2 linked regions of the Homo sapiens genome follow. The protein of the gene in region 1 interacts with the protein of each later gene in a biochemical or structural test. Each region holds a gene or a part of one and is shown on either strand. Other genes may lie near its edges. The genes, in order: ILKAP and RPS6KA3.

What was found.
Region 2: of the proteins of ILKAP (region 1) and RPS6KA3, one has a biochemical effect on the other in vitro, tested with the Homo sapiens proteins (one study listed by BioGRID).

The regions. Positions count from the first base shown.
Region 1 is NC_000002.12:238,196,841-238,200,749, reverse strand, and holds part of ILKAP (integrin-linked kinase-associated serine/threonine phosphatase 2C), read left to right. Parts: intron 1-3,909. UniProt on the Homo sapiens protein: Protein phosphatase that may play a role in regulation of cell cycle progression via dephosphorylation of its substrates whose appropriate phosphorylation states might be crucial for cell proliferation.
Region 2 is NC_000023.11:20,265,401-20,269,309, reverse strand, and holds the start of RPS6KA3 (ribosomal protein S6 kinase alpha-3), read left to right. Parts: upstream 1-2,400; 5' UTR 2,401-2,677; coding exon 2,678-2,746; intron 2,747-3,909. UniProt on the Homo sapiens protein: Serine/threonine-protein kinase that acts downstream of ERK (MAPK1/ERK2 and MAPK3/ERK1) signaling and mediates mitogenic and stress-induced activation of the transcription factors CREB1, ETV1/ER81 and NR4A1/NUR77, regulates translation through RPS6 and EIF4B phosphorylation, and mediates cellular proliferation, survival, and differentiation by modulating mTOR signaling and repressing pro-apoptotic function of BAD and DAPK1.

The sequences.
Region 1 (3,909 bases):
CGTGGGCACAGGTGATTCTTCCACCTCAGCCTCCTTGGTAGCTGGGACTACAGGTGCGCACCACCACAGCCAGCTAATTTTTGTATGTTTTGTAGAGACAAGGCTTTGCCATGTTGCCCAGGCTGCTCTCGAACTCCTGGGGCTCAAGTGTTCTGCCCACCTTGGCCCTCCCAGAGTGCTGGGATTACAGTGGTAAGCCACTGTGCCTGGCTGAGCCATTAACAGTTGTTTAAAAGTGGAAAAACGCAGTCTTAAATGAATTATGGGAAAGCACTGAGTGTCCAAAGGGAGAATACTACACTGCTTATATCACATCAAATGTATTAATATTTTGTTTAGATCTTTTTATTTTTGTTTTAAACGTTGCATCTAATGTTCCCACCCCTAAACCTCTTAAATGTTTATAATCTAGAAAAATACATAGAATGCACTAAATATTTCAGGTATTTTGCTAAATTAGTAGTTTTCATCCAAGCCCTTAAAAGTTTTAATTGCTGAATGAATCAAGTTTTTTAAAGGAGAGATGTATATATTTTACCTAAAAAAAAGTGTTTGTTCATATCAGGCAGAAATGGAACTTTCCTATGTCATACCCATAAAAGTGCCGACCTGATGTCTTTAAGATTGGCAGCTTATATTGACAATCCATGTATGTCAGTTGAAGGTGTCATGGTTTAAAATTGCTTCGCCAGTAACTTGATTTCACTTTTATAGGGTGGTTCTTTTACTTATTTGGTTGCTACACTAGTACTTTAAAAATTGATGGTCAGTTGTTGAGGAGGAAATAAAATATTTGATGGCCACACCATCTTAAAAATACTTTAAAAAAATTGGAGGCTGGGCTCGATGGCGCATACTTGTAATCCCAGCGCTTTGGGGGAACAAGGCAGGAGGATGGCTTGAGGCCAGGAATTTGAGAAGAGCCTGGCACAACTTCGTGAGACCCCTGTCTCTACGATTAAAAAAAAAAAAGAAGAATATTTGAACATAAAGGTTAAGGTATTAGAGGAAAACAGATTGTAAAACTACAGGGTTGAACAAGAAAAAAGTCATAAAAAAGTGAATTTGACTATGTAAAAATTTAAAATTTCTGCAGGACAAATGATACTATAAAGGCAAAAGACAAACCGAGAAAATAATTGCAATATACATTACTAAGGGTATAAGAAAGGCTCACAGAATTGATGGGAAAAAATAAAACCCACTAGAAAAATGGTCAAAGGATGTATCCTCCCAGTTCAGAGGTAAGGAATACAAATGGCCCATCAACAGAAAGTTGCTGAGGAACTATTTACCTTTTCACCCATCAGATTAGCAACAGTTGGTAACATTGGTGAATGTGTAGCGAAGTAGACTTTCTCATAAAGTGTTTTGGGAGTGAAAATTACAACTTTTTGGGGAACAGATTTTGGCTTCTATCAGATTTAAACTAATATCCTTTGACGAGCAGTCTAGCAGATTAAGCAGGAATACATGTATCAGATTGTTGATTGTGGCGTCACTTATCATATGAAGAACTGGGAAAAGCTTGAACCCATCAGTAAGGATCTGGTCGAATGAGTGGAGATGCTTCCCATGTGTGGCTGTTGGAGAGGATGAATTAGACTTGGGTGTGTTGGCCTGGAGCATGCCTTGATGGGTTATGTGAACACTATATGTGGAGTATTGTGTAGAGTATGACTCTGTCTTCTACAAATTAAAATGCATGAGTCCATGTGCATGAGCATTAAGGAAAGTGGAAAGGATACACTAAACTCATACTGTGGTTGGGGGGTGTGGCGGAACCTGTCCCCCCTTTTTTCTGATAATACCTCTGTGGTGTTTGGAAAACACCTGGATTTATTTTATAGTTGAAAAAATTGAGGTATAAAAAACAATTTAGCCAAAATATTTTAACATCCTTTTTTAACTTTATTGGATACAGCAACCTTTAACCTGAATATGATCAACCCAAGGGTATTTTTCTCAGCATAGTATATAACTTCCAGTAGACTTAGCTCCAGAATGTAGATAACTGAGGAAAAAAAAAAGTTCTAGATGAGATTAACTATGATTAATGGACATTTTTAGTCTTGTATTCTTATTAGGGTTCTAATATTTTTAAGATTAGGGGAGGGGCCTCTTCCAGATTTTTAGGTCAGGGTCACACTTTGTCCAATGATTGCAGCCCCCAATGCTTTGAATTTCAGTTTATTCAAAATAGAATGTAAGGGCCTGGAGCAGTGGGTCACATCTGTAATCCCAGCACTTTGGGATGCTGAGGCAGGAAGATTGCTTGAGTACAGTAGTTCGTGACCAACCTGGGCAACATAGTGAGACCCCGTCTCTACAAAAAGTTAAAAAATTAGCTGGGCATGGTGGTGTATGCCTGTAGTTTCAGCTACTCGGGAATCTGACGAGGGAGGATTGCTTGAGCCCAGAAGGTTGGGGCTGCAGTGAGCTGTGATCACACCACTGCACTCCAACCTGGCTCACAGAGCGAGACTCTTGTCTCAATTTAAAAAAAAAAAAATCTAAGGTTTTGACTAATCAGTAGTTTCCTTATGTATCTATGACCTATAGATTTTTTTTTAAAGAATCCACATACAGACTTCTAAGTTAGATTCTTTTGATGATGCAAAAATTATTTCCAGAGATTTTATAAAATCTCAGGATTATCATCATAGGATTGTTGTAAGGGTAAAATGAGTTGATGTTTATGAAGTTTCTGGAAGGGTGCCCATGTATGGAGGCAGCATAGTACCTCACTAAAAGCACGGACTGCATGGCTTTGAATCCCCACTCCACTCCTTACTGGCTCTGTGATCTTGAACAGGTAATTGACCTCAGTGCCTCAGTTTTTTCATCGGTAAATAATAATAGTACCTATCTCATAAGAATTAAATGAGAAGATGTGTGGAGCTCTTAGAATAGTGCCTGACAGGCAGGCAGTATTATCATTTTTAGAAGCCATTCCCAGTTGTGGCCAGCAAAATGTAGGATGGTCTCATTGTGTTTAATTGAAATACCTCTCATAGTATTCCAGAGTGAGAAAGAAGGTGATAGGCAGTTCTCTGGGGATGGGGCTCAGTTTGGGGCACCATCTGACTGAATTGTAGCCAGAGGAGAGGCGGCCAGGCTAGTATTAATACTAAGCTGTAAGTTGCATTGTGAGGAATGCTTACAAGAACTGAAAATATATTTATTACCTGGGTAAAAGAAGACTTCCTCCCTTGTACAGTGGCAGTGGAAAGACCTGATTTAGATGGGCAAGTTAATTCAAAAGTTAAAATATGACCTGGTACAAGCGGAAGGGTTGTTTGCTCTTCATGTTGGGCTGTTACCTGTAAATGTCCCCTCCCTTGTCCTAAGACATCTGGCTCTGTGACACCACTGAATGCAGCGTGATTGTCTGGAACATCTCATGTGGTTTTTGAGTCTGTCCGGAGAACGGGCGTTGTGATTGTTAGACCCAATGTTTGGGCAAAAGTGACCTACTTCGGGATATTAGGAATTCTTGTAAGTGGATTAATACATTGAGTAATGGTTATCCTAAATACTTTTTTTGGGTGCTGGGGACAGAGTCTGGTTTTGTCCCCCAGGCTGGAGTGCAGTGGCGCTATCTCAGCTCACCGCAACCTCCGCCTCCCAGGTTCAAGCAGTTTTCCTGCTTCAGCCTCCCAAGTAGCTGGGGCTACAGGCACCCGCCACCATGCCTAGCTAATTTTTGTATTTCTGGAGAGACAGGGTTTCACCATGTTGGTCAGGCTCATCTTGAACTGCTGACCTCAGTCCTGACCTTGACCTCCCAAAGTGCTGGGATTATAGGTGTGAGCCACCACACCTGGCCATACTAAATACTTTTTAATGGCTTTCTTCTGCTTCTTGTATACTTCTAATAGAGTCTTTATGTCACTTGTAAGAAAAGTG
Region 2 (3,909 bases), on another chromosome or scaffold:
AACGTGACCACCGCTCACATTACTTTTACAGATCAGGTAACTCTGTTTTAAAAGTTATTCCTCTGGTTCTCAAGGTTAACAGAGATGAATAAAAGTTGATACTGAAAATGGCATACAATTTGCTTTATTTTAAAATATTCATTCTTTGCGTGGGGGTAATTAGCACTGAACAGTGTTAGCCACATAACGGTCTCTCTTCAACTATGTATGTTTTTACTAATGCAAGAATGTTAACTGAAATAATTGATCAAAGGGTAGGGGGAGCTAATTTACTTTAAGCCAACCGAATTAACGAACTTCTTTTCGCTATAAGGAGTGGTCATGTGACTCTGCAATGTAAATGAATAAAGCATTTTGTACATAAATGCAAAATAGTACACAACTCCTTATCCTCCAAACTTCTGCAAGCACGTTTTACCGTCGGGAATTACACAGAGAAGGTGCTGCCAAATTAGCTGAGTTTGGGCCCAGGTTGGATTTGCAACACCTGAATATAGCATGTGAAGGGAAGTGACAAAGGCAAGAGCCAAGTGGCCCCATTCGCCTTCTTCCCCAGACCACGTTGAGTCTGCCCAGATGTTGTCCAACCTGAGCGGTCCCCCTGAGTCCAAAGCTTCGGGAGAAGGCGCGCAACGAGGACTTCCTGCCGCCTTCTCAGGCTCCCTAAACAGTTGGAGCCTCCCTAAATGGCCACGAGGTTCCCCGGCCTCGAGCCTGTGCCAAGGGGCGCGCTGGCGAAGGCAGCAGAAAGAGCCCAACACCTGCCTCTCGCAGGCCCAGCGAGAAACCTCGCACCGCCCGCGCAGACCTGGCCGGCTGGGTTTGGGGCTCTAATCTCATCCTCACACCTGCTTAGGGAGGCAGGCGAGGGTTCTCCAGGTGTCTGGGTCCCGGGAGGATGAAAGGAAGCTGTTAATAGGCGTGCGCTGGGAGCGCAGCAGCGGACGCGCCGTGGTCGCTGGGCGTGGGAAGACCGGGATGCCTGGGCCACGGCCTGAGGGTTTGAAGGGACAGGCCGGCTCGGAGATCTCCCTTTGCTTTTTCTCTTCCCCTCGCTGGGCGACTAGCCAGGGGCTGCAGTAGCTTTCCACTCAGCCCTGCGACTTTTACACATTTCTGCCCGGGCGCACTTAGCGCGCAGCGGCTCCTGGCGCAGTGAACACAGGGTCGAGTCCTCTTGGGACGCACCCCGGACGCCCAGGCCTTCCCCCCAAAGCTCTCGCCGTCCTGTGGGGCTCCGTCGCCGTCGGGGCATTGGGTTTCCTTAATCCAGGGCTTCCCCATCTTGGGCAGGAGGAGGAGTCAGAACCCCTCCCCTCCCTCTGTCCCCCTCCTCCTCCTCCTCCGCCCACGGCCAGCCTGATTTTTAAATCTAATCTCTTATTTAAAGTCAACAGAGGAGCAGGAACCCCGCGCTCCTGCCTACAAGATATTTTTAAATAATTCTCCAACCTCTACCGAGAGGGACAGCCTTAAGGAACCTCCCTGTTTTCCCCTCTTGAAGATTTAGGTAGCAGACGTGGGGCGGGGGGCAGCGGTTCCAGGGTCGCAGCTGAAGGCCGAGAGCTCTGCGCACTTGGGGAGGAGAATTTGGGCTGGGGGCGGTGCGGGGGAAGCGACTAATACAAGAGGAATTAATCCCAAATAGCCACAATTTAACAAAAGAGCGTCAACTTGAAAAGACTTGAATCAAACCGGGAGCCGAGCCCCCAGGAGGCTCCTAGGCACGAAGCCTCCCTTGCCTCCGTCGGGGGAGATGGGGGGCAGGTGATTTCCCAGCATGTGACCCTGAAGAGGGAGGGTCTTGGGCCATTACGGGATGCGCCCAGAGACTAGGCGCGTCCGCACGCACGCACCCCCGGAGGAGACAAGCCGAAAAGACACTCCGCACCCCTCCCCGGGTCCTTGGCTCGGGACTGCGCCCCCGGTACTTTGCCCACCTCCCTCCCCAGCTGGGCGGGGACCACTGTTCTCCCTCATTCCCAAGGAGCCTCCGACCTCCTTGGACCCTTGGCGGTGAAAGGCTCCCAGCCTTCGCCCCTCCTGCCTTTCCCATTTCTTTCCCCCGCCTCCCGCCGACGCCCCCAGATCTGTTGGGCTCGCCCTTCCTGAAAGTAGGCGAGGCCCAGAAGCTGAGGTTGGGGCGCAGAAGGAGGGGGGTGGGAAGAGGGAGGAGCGGAGCGCAGCGGCCGGGGGCGTGTCTTCCACTAGCCCAGCCCCTGGGTGCGCGCGGCGGTGGTGGCGGCGGCCGAGCCTCGCTTTGAGAGACAGGTATCGCTTAGGCGCCATGTTGTGAGCGGAAGTGGGGGAGCGCGCGGCGGTCGCTGTTCTGCTGGGAGCGGGCGCGGGAACCGGCGGGGGGGGCGGAGCCGTAGTCCCGGCGGCGGAAGGAGGAGAGGAAGAAAGGGGCGAGACCCGGTGCCCAGCGGAGGCGCGAGGCTCTCGCTCAGCGCGCGGGCGTCTCTGGCCAGGCGCGCGGCTTTCGGGCGGTCGGCGTCGGCGTCGAGCCCTCTCTGGGGCCGCCGCCGCTGCTGCTGCTGCTGCCGCTGCCGCTGCCGCTGCCGCCGCCGCCGCCGCCGCCGCCGCTGCCGTGGGGCTCGGGCGGCGACGGAGCGGGGCCGGCCGTGGGGCGGGCGGGGAGGGAGGAGGCGGTGAAGGCGGCGGGCCGGGGGGGAAGATGCCGCTGGCGCAGCTGGCGGACCCGTGGCAGAAGATGGCTGTGGAGAGCCCGTCCGACAGCGCTGAGGTGAGTGCAGCAGGGCGGCCGGGGCCGGCGCATCTCCTCCTCGCGCCCCCGCCGGCTCGCTTCGCTCCCCGGAGCTGGCCACTCGGCCCGTTCTGATCCCGCTCGCGTCTTTCCCCCGGGCTCAGGGTTTTGGTTTGGGTTGTTGGGGTGGGTCTATTGGCCGGTCTGTCTGTTCCTTCCATCCTCACCCTCACCTCCTTCCCTCGCTCGGGGGGCTGCCAGTGTGGTGGCGCGTGGGGTTTGGAGTGGGCGCTGGGGCTTTGCAAGAAGCCAATTTTAATCAACTTTGCGTGGGGGAAGCGGGAGGCGGAGCGGGGGCCGGCGGGGAGTTGGGAAGTTTGGCCCAGCCGGGTCGGGGGCTTTCCCGGACCTTGGCGACTTTGGGAGATGAGGGAGGGGTAGGGATCGGGTTCACCGGGGAGCAGGGACTCTCGAGTCCAGCCGAGGGAGGGGCTGCTGCGGGGAGACCGGCGCGCGGGGCACGGGCGGCGGCGACCTGTGGGGGTTTCGGGTAGGGGGTGCAGGGTTTTGCCTCCCCCTCGTCTGCCGCAGCGGTTTCTGCTGCTGCAAAGAAGAAAGCGGAAGCCTAAGGTCCCCTACCCCCTCCGTTTCTGAGGTCGCAGAGCTAGACCCCCGTCCCTGTGAGTTTAACTTGAGTTTCCTGTCCATGGAGGTGAGAGGGTGATATTCAAGGAGATCAGCGGCCGCCGTAAAAGGCTTTCTGGTTTTCCTCGCCCGGGATCTGGTGACCGTCCCTGAGTCACCCATCCTAGTGCCCAAAACCCAAACAATATACCCAAACAGGGCAAAACAGAATTTCCCCGGGCGCATCACTACACCGAGCTTTCCTGAACCGCCCCTATCCCAGAACAACTCGGGGTCTGCGAAAATAATCCAGACAAGACCCGTTCCAAGGTATCACCGCTCCTCTCCGGAGTGGAAAATCAATTCCTGATGGTGGCGCGTCTGTGATTCTTCCTTCTTGACTTTTTGCTGCCTTCTCTCCCCGCAGCGGACTTTAGGGGATTACAGGATGATAGGCTGCGTGTGTGTAATAGTTACTGAGTGAGTGACCCCATTTCTGGAAAGCATGACTGAAACGCGGGGGTGGAACGGGGCAGGCTCTGATGAGTGGTGTGCTTGGCGGCAGCCGCTGCCCTGCC